Homo sapiens: one gene and its partner. The protein of the gene in region 1 purifies or fractionates together with the protein of each later gene. This does not show direct contact. Each region holds a gene or a part of one and is shown on either strand. Other genes may lie near its edges.

Region 1 (4,153 bases):
TCAAAGAATGAGAAAAATGGTGATCCATTTTGGGGCAAACTGAGACCCCCCAAATAACTCTTTCCTCATGTGTATGGTGCTCCTCATGACTCGTCTTGTATTTTGCCTTTCTGATACCCATCAGAACTGCTGCTGCTCTAACTTATACTCTTTACCTTGCCCAGATCTCCGCGTAAGGAATGCTTTATGATCAACTTGCCATAGGACTGATGGATTAACCAGTGTTCGGCTTTATTTGAAGTCTATGCCCTGCACAGCTCTTGTATGTATTTTAGATGCTAGAAGTTTTTTTAGCATGTGATGTGTGATTCTTGTTTGAATTCTAGGTACCTTGTGAATTCCAGAAAAAGAGACTGTGCTTCACGATTGTTAGTCCCATGAACTTGCACTATCTATCTTTCATGGTGATGTTTTGAAAATACAATCAGGAAAAAACCCAACACCTTTGGAATTTAAAATAGAATCATATCATGAAATTTAAAAAGAATCTCTTCTGTTGCATTTCCTCACCCCTAAGTAACAGCTACATTTAAGTAAAATGCAGGTGGTAGGGGAAAAAAAACCATGGCGAGATGGTGGTTTAGTGGAATAAACTGATTACTGGTTTTTTTGTTTTTTTTTTTTTTTTTAAAGAAAGAAGCTTCATCACAGATACTTTCCAGTTTCTCTTTTATACTTTTTTGAAAGATTACTTTTTAGGAACATTTGGTATGATATGCATAAAATTATTTATCCATTTATGGGCAAAATGATACAAGTAGCATCTTGATTGAACATCATTTACCTCAGATATTCAACCAGCAGTACGTTTTTTATGCAGTCTCAACCCATATCCCATTTGTTACCTCTCAGAATATTGGTAAGCAGTTATTTTCGCTTTACTCTGTATTTCTTGTGTTTTGGGCACAGGTTATTGTACTACTGTCAAATCGTACTTGCTATTTTTTCTGCAAGTATTTAACAGAAAGCTTAAAATCCCCATAAAACCCCACCTTGGATAAGTGATTGTTAAATATTGTACAAATAAAATGTATGCTATCCCCATTCCATCCCCAAGTTAAATAAAAAAATGAATACGGTATGATTTGCATATGCAGTTTTTCTTTAGCTATGTTTTTTTTTTTTTTTATACTTTAAGTTTTAGGGTACATGTGCACATTGTGCAGGTTAGTTACATAGGTATACATGTGCCATGCTGGTGCGCTGCACCCACTAACTCGTCATCTAGCATTAGGTATATCTCCTAATGCTATCCCTCCCCCATCCCCCCACCCCACAACAGTCCCCAGAGTGTGATATTCCCCTTCCTGTGTCCATGTGATCTCATTGTTCAATTCCCACCTATGAGTGAGAATATGCGGTGTTTGGTTTTTTGTTCTTGTGATAGTTTACTGAGAATGATGATTTCCAATTTCATCCATGTCCCTACAAAGGACATGAACTCATCATTTTTTATGGCTGCATAGTATTCCATGGTGTATATGTGCCACGTTTTCTTAATCCAGTCTATCATTGTTGGACATTTGGGTTGGTTCCAAGTCTTTGCTATTGTGAATAATGCCACAATAAACATACGTGTGCATGTGTCTTTATAGCAGCATGATTTATAGTCCTTTGGGTATATACCCAGTAATGGGATGGCTGGGTCAAATGGTGTTTCCAGTTCTAGATCCCTGAGGAATCGCCACACTGACTTCCACAATGGTTGAACTAGTTTACAGTCCCACCAACAGTGTGAAAGTGTTCCTATTTCTCCACATCCTCTCCAGCACCTGTTGTTTCCTGACTTTTTAATGATTGCCATTCTAACTGGATAAAATACTGGCAAAACGAATCCAGCAGCACATCAAAAAGCTTATCCACCATGATCAAGTGGGCTTCATCCCTGGGATGCAAGGCTGGTTCAATATACGCAAATCAATGAATGTAATCCAGCATATAAACAGAGCCAAAGACAAAAAACACATGATTATCTCAATAGATGCAGAAAAAGCCTTTGACAAAATTCAACAACCCTTCATGCTAAAAACTCTCAATAAATTAGGGATTGATGGGGTGTATTTCAAAATAATAAGAGCTATCTATGACAAACCCACAGCCAATATCATACTGAATGGGCAAAAACTGGAAGCATTCCCTTTGAAAACTGGCACAAGACAGGGATGCCCTCTCTCACCACTCGTATTCAACATAGTGTTGGAAGTTCTGGCCAGGGCAATTAGGCAGGAGAAGGAAATAAAGGGTATTCAATTAGGAAAAGAGGAAGTCAAATTGTCCGTTTGCAGACGACATGATTGTATATCTAGAAAACCCCATCGTCTCAGCCCAAAATCTCCTTAAGCTGATAAGCAACTTCAGCAAAGTCTCAGGATACAAAATCAATGTACAAAAATCACAAGCATTCTTATACACCAACAACAGACAAACAGAGAGCCAAATCATGAGTGAACTCCCATTCACAATTGCTTCAAAGAGAATAAAATACCTAGGAATCCAACTTACAAGGGATGTGAAGGACCTCTTCAAGGAGAACTACAAGCTACTGCTCAAGGAAATAAAAGAGGATACAAACAAATGGAAGAACATTCCATGCTCTTGGGTAGGAAGAATCAATATTGTGAAAATGGCCATACTGCCCAAGGTAATTTACAGATTCAATGCCATCCCCATCAAGCTACCAATGACTTTCTTCACAGAATTGGAAAAAACTACTTAAGTTCATATGGAACCAAAAAAGAGCCCACATCGCCAAGGCAATCCTAAGCTATGTGTTCTTAAAGAGGGGAGTGGTAGCTTTGTAACTTACAGTGAGGCTTACACCTTGACAACTGCAAGAATGAGGATAGTGGTGAGTGAAGGGAGATTTGTTAATTATGGCATTTCCCTCTATTATCGTCTAAACAGATTATATTCCCACTAAAGTATGTGTGTTGGTCCTGCCAGTATTAGAAACCAGAGGCTTGTTGGCATTGTGTCACACAGTACACACCAATGGATTCTCAGATTTTCTAGGGTAAAGGTGAAGGATGGGGCAGCACTTAGGTTATGGTGGTTTGAAAGAAACTGAATTGCTTTCTAAACCAGATGAGGATCAGAGTGCGAACCATGGTGAAATATGCATGGAAACTACAGAAAGACTGAAGTGTTTCTTACGGTGTTTTCTGCAAAACGTGATTCATTAGGACATTAACAGGTATTACGTTTTCAACATATACAGCATTATGATACAGTAAGTTTGGACCAAACAGGTATTCATTCCCCAGAGCCTTTCACATGCACGAGAATCAGTCATTTTAACAAGAATTCCGTTTCTGCTGGGCCACTTGGATCCCTTGGATTCAGATGTAAAAACACACTGAAATATTCCTCCTTTCACCTGCTTTTCAGTTTGAGGTAATCAGATTGAAAAGCAGGAGTTCATGCATTTTTTGGTTCTATTTTTCCTCCTCTAGTAAATGAAGAAAATAAGCTATATGTATAAGTTTACATTATTCTTGAACCGCTTTTTAAACTAGGGTTTTTCATATTTGTTTTTATTGATGACAATTAAAGCAATTTAAGAGACGAAGTTAGCTCAAAACTCTTGCGAATAGATTTTAGCATTTTTGTATGAGGGAATATGGAAAGGCCAACAAGCAGCACTGTTCCTCCCCACAAAAATGCCTTGGGAATATAATAGGCGTACACTTCATTTGTGTAACTTTTCCTAATGTATTTTTTTTTAATTTGCTTTATAACGGTTTCATGTTTACCTCAATTGGTACTTAGTCTTAAAATCTTTCTTTATACTTGGTTATTGATGGATCTTCTGCAGCTCTTATGTAGCCAATGAGACAGATGAGGGCTGTCAGCTTTTAAGTGACATCTTAAGCTAATAAGAAATTGGAATCCTCAAGTCATTTCATGAGGCTGTTACCCTTTAAGACAAATAATACTTTCCTCAAATAGTTCAGAAAATTTTTAAAAGGATCACTTAGAGCATAAGTGTAAAATTCTTGCTTCTAGTATATAATAGTGATGTTACCATGTCAAGTATTTTGGTGAAATATCCCCTAAAAATGTGTAGACTACGGCACAGATTGAGTATGCAAGCCTTAGCTTGAATGAGACTGCTGAGAAGTAAATGACAGGGATCTGAATACTTAGCAGGCTT
Region 2 (7,311 bases), on another chromosome or scaffold:
TACCATAGGCTAATTGATATAAATAAGAATAAAGTTTCTAAGGCATATTTCTTGTCACAAAAACATCACCAAACTTCTAAATAAAGACCAACACATTCCTAGTATTAAACATTGAAATAAATGTGAGCTAGACATATATTTACAAAACAGTAAGAAAGACAAATAAGATAACTACCAAATTATTTCGGTTCAGGGCTTTAGGTAGCTGGAGTCTATTCTGGCAGATCAGGATGCAAGGCCACAACCCACCCTCGACAGGACACCATTCCATTGCAGGGTGCCCTTACACACACACACACGTACTCATGCTGGGACCATGTAGACACCCCAATTCATCTAACATGCACTTCTTTGGGATGTGGGAGGAAGCTGGAGTACCCAGAGAAAACCCATGTGGACGTGAGGAGAAGGTGCAAACCTCACACAGTCAGTGACCGGGTGGGTAATCAATTTTTTTCATTAACATTATAATGAAATGATGTGGAATAAAATGACATTATTCAAGAGCCTACTGTATATTTCATCTGGAGTCCTCAATTCTAAAAGTACAGTTAATTCTCAGAGAGTATACTACCACTGCTCTTTTTGATTTAGAAGAAAGGGAACTGAATGGTGGTAGAGAAAGGCCATTATTTTATAAATCTACTCCAGGAGGAACTAGGGTCATAGTTGATGAGATAATGTCTTGTTCCTTACAGAATTCTAGCTTTACTTGAGTCTTGGAAAAGTAAAAGTATCATTGATTTGTTAATTAACTTTCCTTTACAAGAAAAATTTTCATTTTGTAGAAAGTGCTATAAGAAATGATATACCTATCTTTATGGAAAGATGTTCATTATTCACTATATTGAATTTTATAATGTTAAACTCTGCTTTTCTTTGCATAAACTATCAGAGATTATAATCTAAAATCTTAAATAGTTAAATTATAAGTAAATTTTGTGTTTTCCCATATATAAAAGTGATATATTTAATGAATGCTAGTAATCTTAAACTGGTTATATAATTTTATACTACAATGAGTACCTTCGAGAAAGCTTATGGTATAAGAAATACTATTTCCAAAACATTTTTGTTGCACATTTTTGGTATTAGACTCATCATTCCAATGACATCTGGATTATGGGAAGAAAGGAGCCTGACTCTTATGATGGAATAACCACAAATCAGAGAGGAGTCACAATAGCAGCTCTTGGTGCAGACTGTATACCGATAGTTTTTGCAGATCCAGTCAAAAAAGCATGTGGGGTTGCTCACGCTGGTAAGTATACTTAATTAAACATTTAGAATTTTACTCATTTTGTTGTGCAGGAAAAATTGTAATTTCTTTCTGATGGACATGGCAAACAGTTAATTACATTACACTGTGGTAAGTGTAATGATGGGAGAGGCGGCATAGTTTTATTATAGGGACAGCTAAGAGGAGTATCTGCATCAAATTATATGAATTATAGTAGAATTCCCAAAGGAGGTGGCACCTAGGTTGATTCCTGAGGAATTTGTTGGTTTTGGCTGGGTAACAGTGTTCCTTAGCAAGGGTGCTATTAACATTTTGGGCAGGATAATCCCACATTGCAGATTAAGTGTCTTTAGCCCCTGAAATCCTTAATGACAGTAGCACCTCTAGTTACTGTAATAACCAAGACCAACCAACCAACCAATCAAACAACAACGAAACCCTCCAAGCTTTTCAAAACACTCCCTAGGGGAGTGGTACTGCCTCTGGTTGAGAATCCTTGAAATCCAGGCCATAGGAAATAGGAATGTTAGGCATGTTGCAGAGAAGTGTTCACCCAGATGGAGCTGCATGTGTAAAGCTAGGGAGGTAGGAAAAAGCAAGATGTTTTGAAAACTGTTTTTAGTTTACATCACTTAATGTATTTAACTGTAACTATTCTCTGAGAGCAAAGAAGTATTTTTAGAAGGTATATTGTGTTAAGGATATGGAATTTTGTTTTCTGAAGGTATTTTAAAATAGTATTTTAGATTACCCCATAGCTGTGATTTTGTGTGAAATGAGGGATGATCTTTAAAATTTCCTTCTACTTGTAAATCTATGGCTACTTTGCTTTTTAGCTCATAGGTAAAAAAGAAAGTAGCATATTTTTATTTTGACCTAGCTGAAATAATGGGATTGAATGAGTAGAAGTCAGGTTTACTACATGACATTGTCAAAAAGTTATTTAAAATTTGAGTCTTGGCTCCTGGATATAAAAAGAGGATATTATTTTTTTACTTCTTAGGTTCGAAAACATTTAGTTTAAACATATCCAAGATCAAGCAGTCAAAATGAAGTTATAAATGTGAATTTCAAGTCATTAATAAGTTAATTTTGAAAGAATAAAATACCTAGGAATACAGTTACCTTAACCAAGGAGATTAAAGGTCTCTACAATGAGAAGTACAAAACACTGCTGAAAGAAAGCAGAGATAATATAAACAAATGGAAAAACATTCCATGCTCATGGATAGGAAGAATCAATATTGTTAAAATGGCCACACTGCCCAAAGCAATTTATAGATTCAATGCTACTCCTATCAAACTACCAATGTCATTTTTCACAGATTTAGAAAAAACTATTTTAAAATTCACATGGAACCAAAAAAGAGCCCAAATAGCCAAAGCTATCCTAAGCAAAAAGAATAAAGCTGGAGGAGTCATATTGCCTCCCTTCAAGCTGTACTCCAAAGTTACAGTTACCAAAACAGCATGGTACTGGTACCAAAACTGACACATAGGCCAATAGAACAGGATAGAGAACCTAGAAATAAAGCCACACACCTACAACCATCTGATCTTTGACAAAGTCGACAATAACAAGCAATGAGGAAAGGAATCCCTGTTCCATAAATGGTGCTGGCATAACTGGCTAGCCATATGTAGGAAATTGATACTAGATCCCTTCCTTTCACCATATACAAAAACTAACTCAACATGGGTTAAAGACTTAAACATATAGCCTAAAACTATTAAAACCCTAGGAGGAAACCTAGGAAATGCCATTCTGGACATAGGCATAGGCCTTGGCAAAGATTTCATGGTGAAGACTTCAAGAGCAAACAAAAACAAAAATAGTCAAGTGGGACCCAATTAAACTAAGGAGCTTCTGCACAGCAAAAGAAACTATCAACAGAGTAAACAGAAAACCTACAGAATTGGAGAAAATATTTGCAAACTATGCAGCTGAAAAGGTCTAACACCGAGACTCTATAAGGAACTTAAATCAACAAACAAATAACAATCAATCCCATTAAAAAATGGGCAAAGGACATGAACAAACGCTTCTCAAAAGAAGACTTACACGTGGTCAACAAGCATATGAAAAAACGCTTGATATTACTAATCATTAGAGAAATGCAAATCACAACTACAATGAGATACCATTTCATACCAGTCAGAATGGCTGTTATAAAAAAAGTCAAAAAACAACAGATGTTGGTGAGATTGTGGAGAAAAGGAAATGCTTACACACTGCTAGTGGGAATGTAAATTAGTTCAGCCACTGTGGAAAGCAGTTTGTATATTTCTCAAAGAACTTAAAATTAGAACTACCATTCAACCCAGCAATCCCATTACTGGGTATATACCCAAAGGAATATAAATTATTCTGCCATAAAGACACATGCACACGTATGTTCATCACAGCACTTTTCACAATAATGAAGACATGGAATCAACTTAGATGCCCATCAGTGGTGGACTGGATAAAGAAAATATGGTACATATACATAATGGAATACTATAAAGCCATAAAAAAGAATGAAATCATATCCTTACAGCAACATAGATGCAGCTGGAAGCCATCCTAAATGAATTAATGCAGGAACAGAAAATCAGATACCATATGTATCCTTTAAGTGGGAGCTACACATTGAGTACACATGGACACAAAAAAAGGGACAATGGACATGGGGGCTTACTTAAGGGTGGTGGGTGGGAGGAGGGTGACGACTGAAGAACTGTCTGTTCGGTACTATGTCCACTACTTGGGTGATGAAATCGTTTGTACACGAAACCCCAGTGACATGCAATTTACCCATGTAACAAACCTGCATATATGTACCCCGAACCTAAAAAGTTGGAAGAATAAAAATAAATTAACTTTAAAATATAATATAATTAGCTACATTGTATACTACTTTTATCAGATATCAAAAAGAATAAAATTCTTCTATGGGACTAATTTAATAAAGATCTTTTAACTAGATATGTATATATAGATAGGCATAGAAAAATCAAATAGAAAGGAGGTGGATGAACTACAAGTGAGAGGATAACTAAGGAGGCTCACTGAGGAAGAGAGCTACTCTCATCTGTAGAAAAGCCCTGACAGTTTCTCTCTTTAACTCAAAATGCCTATATCTAGTTGCTTCCCTTTGAACATCACTGTCTGCATCTTCCTAGGTGCCTGAAAATCATTATGTCAAAAACTCAACATTTTTTTCCTAAAGTCTTCTCTGCCAGTTAGGTTTCCTGTTTTAATTATTGATATCCTACCCACTTACAGATAGAAACTTGATGTCTTCATTCTGTACTTCCCATAACCACATATTCAGTGGGTTACCTGTAGAGGCTGAACCTGTCACCTAAGTCCTTCTTGCTTTCATCATCTCCTTTTATCTGTAAAAATTGATCCCTTCACCTGAGTGCCTACCTTTTGAAGGGTATGAGTATGGAGTGCTTAAGGAAGGTGTAAGGGTACTCATTATTGGCCAACCATATCAGCTGAATCAAACCCAGATATAGGGAATAAAGGAAAAATGCAATATTCTTAGCTTTCTGTCTTTGGCAACAAGAAGGTAGCATAAGTAAAGAAGATGGTTTTATCTTAGAACACTGTAAGATGCAAGGCAGATAAGACAAAGATGGCAAGGGAACGATAGTCTGGGCAAGTGGGAAGGGAGTAAAAAGAGGCTGTTAATTGAAATATAATAGATATATTTTTGTAAAAAGGGAGAGATGAAAACTGCAAAACATTGCTGAAGGACATTAAAGAAGACACAAATAAATGCAGAGAAATTCTGTGTTCATGGATTAGAAGTTAGAGAAACGCAAATCAAAACCACAGTGAAATATCACCCCACATCCATTAGGATGGCTAATATTTTAAAACCTCAGAAAATAAGTGTTGTTGAGGATATGGAGAAGTTGAAATCCTGGTGCACTGGTGGTGGGAATGTGAAATTGTGTAGCCACTATAGAAAACAGTATGGCAATTTCTCAAAAAATTATAAATAGATTACCATATAATCCAGAAATTCCTCTTCTGGAAGTATATCCAAAATAACTGAAATCAGGAACTCAAAGAGATATTTGCACACCAATGTTGATAACACGATTATTCGCAATAGCCAAAAGGTGAAAGCAATCTAAGGTACATTGGTAGATGAATGGATAAGCAAAATGTGTGTGCATACAATGGAATATTATTTAGCTTTAAAAAGGCAGGATATTCTGACACATACTACAATATAGATGAACCTTAAGGACATTATGCTAAGTGAAATCAGTCAGTCACAAAAAGATAAATACTGTATTGATTTCACTTATATGATATACCTACAGTAATCAAATGTACAGGAACTGGAAGAAGAATGGTGATTGCCAGGGGCTGGTAAAAGGAAGAAACAAGGAGTTATTGTTAATAGTTGTAGAGTTTCCATTTTATCAAATGAAAAAATTCTGGAGATTGGTTATACAACAATGTGAGTTCAACACTACTGAACTGTATACTTAGAATAGTATTTTTTTGTGGTTATAATAGTAAATTTTGTGGGTTTTTAACCACAATCTTTTAAAATGTGAAAAATAGAAGACTAAGAAGCTATGATCTCAGTGGAAACTAAAAGTATAGAGCATCTTTAAATGGAAGATGAAGAAAACTCCCATTACATGTCTCTTCTGTGTCAGGTGCTTTGTGTAGTATGGCTCATTTAAAAACCACATGATAATGTAATTTATTATTTCTGGACTTTGAAAAATATACAAACTAAATCTGCTCACTTTTAACTTAGACATAAATTCAGGTGAAATTTTTTATGTTTTGACTTCTCTTATCTCTTTTTATTCCTATTTACCAGGTTGGAAAGGTACTTTGTTGGGTGTTGCTATGGCTACAGTGAATGCTATGATAGCAGAATATGGCTGCAGTTTGGAAGACATTGTTGTTGTACTTGGACCTTCAGTAGGACCTTGCTGTTTTACTCTTCCAAGGGAATCAGCAGAGGCATTTCATAATCTTCATCCTGCATGTGTACAACTATTTGATTCACCAAATCCCTGTATCGACATCCGTAAAGCCACAAGGTATGTCTGATTTCATTCAACTGCAAGTTTGATTATTTCTGATTGTTCTAAAATGAAATTTATTTTGGAGAACAATTAATAACTCTAAGAAGAATTTAGGTGGTGGTTATTTAAGCAGCTGACATGCACATGTACACAAACACTCATTTTAAATATGAAATCTGTTTTCATTTGAGTTTGAATAACAGAAATTTTCCTGTCTGGTATCTTTCATTGATTTAAAAGTGAAGGAAGAAATATTTGGCATTTAATTTTAAGAGATCTACTTAAACTTCATATAGAAAAGTTGGCGTGTACTTTACTTCACAGCCATTCCTCAGCTAAATTCTCCTAAATGTAATGAACTATCAGGAAGCTGATATTTTAAAATTATTCTTATTATCTAATTAACTAGAGGAATATGTTTTTTAGAAAAAATATTAGATAATATAAATACACGGTTTTTTACTTTTAAGTTTTTTACAGTTCTTCGCATCTTTTAATTTACAAGGTTTTGTTATTAATAACTGGTGAAAATTATTTGTCATTACTACAAAGGCAAATTAATGTATGTTTTAAATCATGTTTCTATTCCAGTCGCCAAAACTTTACCCAGAGTCTGCCTCATTTAGTACAGATGTGGAAAAGTTTGAAATTGATTCTTAAATGTGACTTTTAAAATCAAGTATCACTAACTTGTAGTCATATTTCATATCATAAAGTGTTCATGGAGAAGCAAGTTTTCTGAGAAAAATCTGGCTAATAGAAGGAAAGGAGATGAAGGGCCAGATGACTAAAAAGCATACTCTGGCTGAGCCAGGTGAATTTTGCCTGATATCCTGGTAACTTTTGTAGACATTTCTTCTTAAATAAGCACTTGATTTTGATTATAAAATTCTGTACCTAGATTATGTCTATAAGACAATATGGAAGGTTGTACTGTGCATATATGAACTTAGGTGATAAATGCTGATAAAGTGTAGCATTTTTTTCCCTGACTAGTCCATGTTCTGTAAGTGAATAAC

Evidence for each region.
Region 2: the proteins of ORC4 (region 1) and LACC1 purify together in Homo sapiens (affinity purification with mass spectrometry; 3 studies listed by BioGRID and IntAct, with this or other methods). This does not show direct contact.

What each region holds. Positions count from the first base shown.
Region 1 is NC_000002.12:147,929,744-147,933,896, forward strand, and holds the end of ORC4 (origin recognition complex subunit 4), read right to left. Parts: 3' UTR 653-4,153; downstream 1-652. UniProt on the Homo sapiens protein: Component of the origin recognition complex (ORC) that binds origins of replication. DNA-binding is ATP-dependent. The specific DNA sequences that define origins of replication have not been identified yet.
Region 2 is NC_000013.11:43,882,676-43,889,986, forward strand, and holds part of LACC1 (purine nucleoside phosphorylase LACC1), read left to right. Parts: intron 1-1,095; coding exon 1,096-1,261; intron 1,262-2,243; coding exon of another isoform or gene 2,244-2,293; exon of another isoform or gene 2,294-4,115; intron 4,116-6,081; coding exon 6,082-6,307; intron 6,308-7,311. UniProt on the Homo sapiens protein: Purine nucleoside enzyme that catalyzes the phosphorolysis of adenosine, guanosine and inosine nucleosides, yielding D-ribose 1-phosphate and the respective free bases, adenine, guanine and hypoxanthine.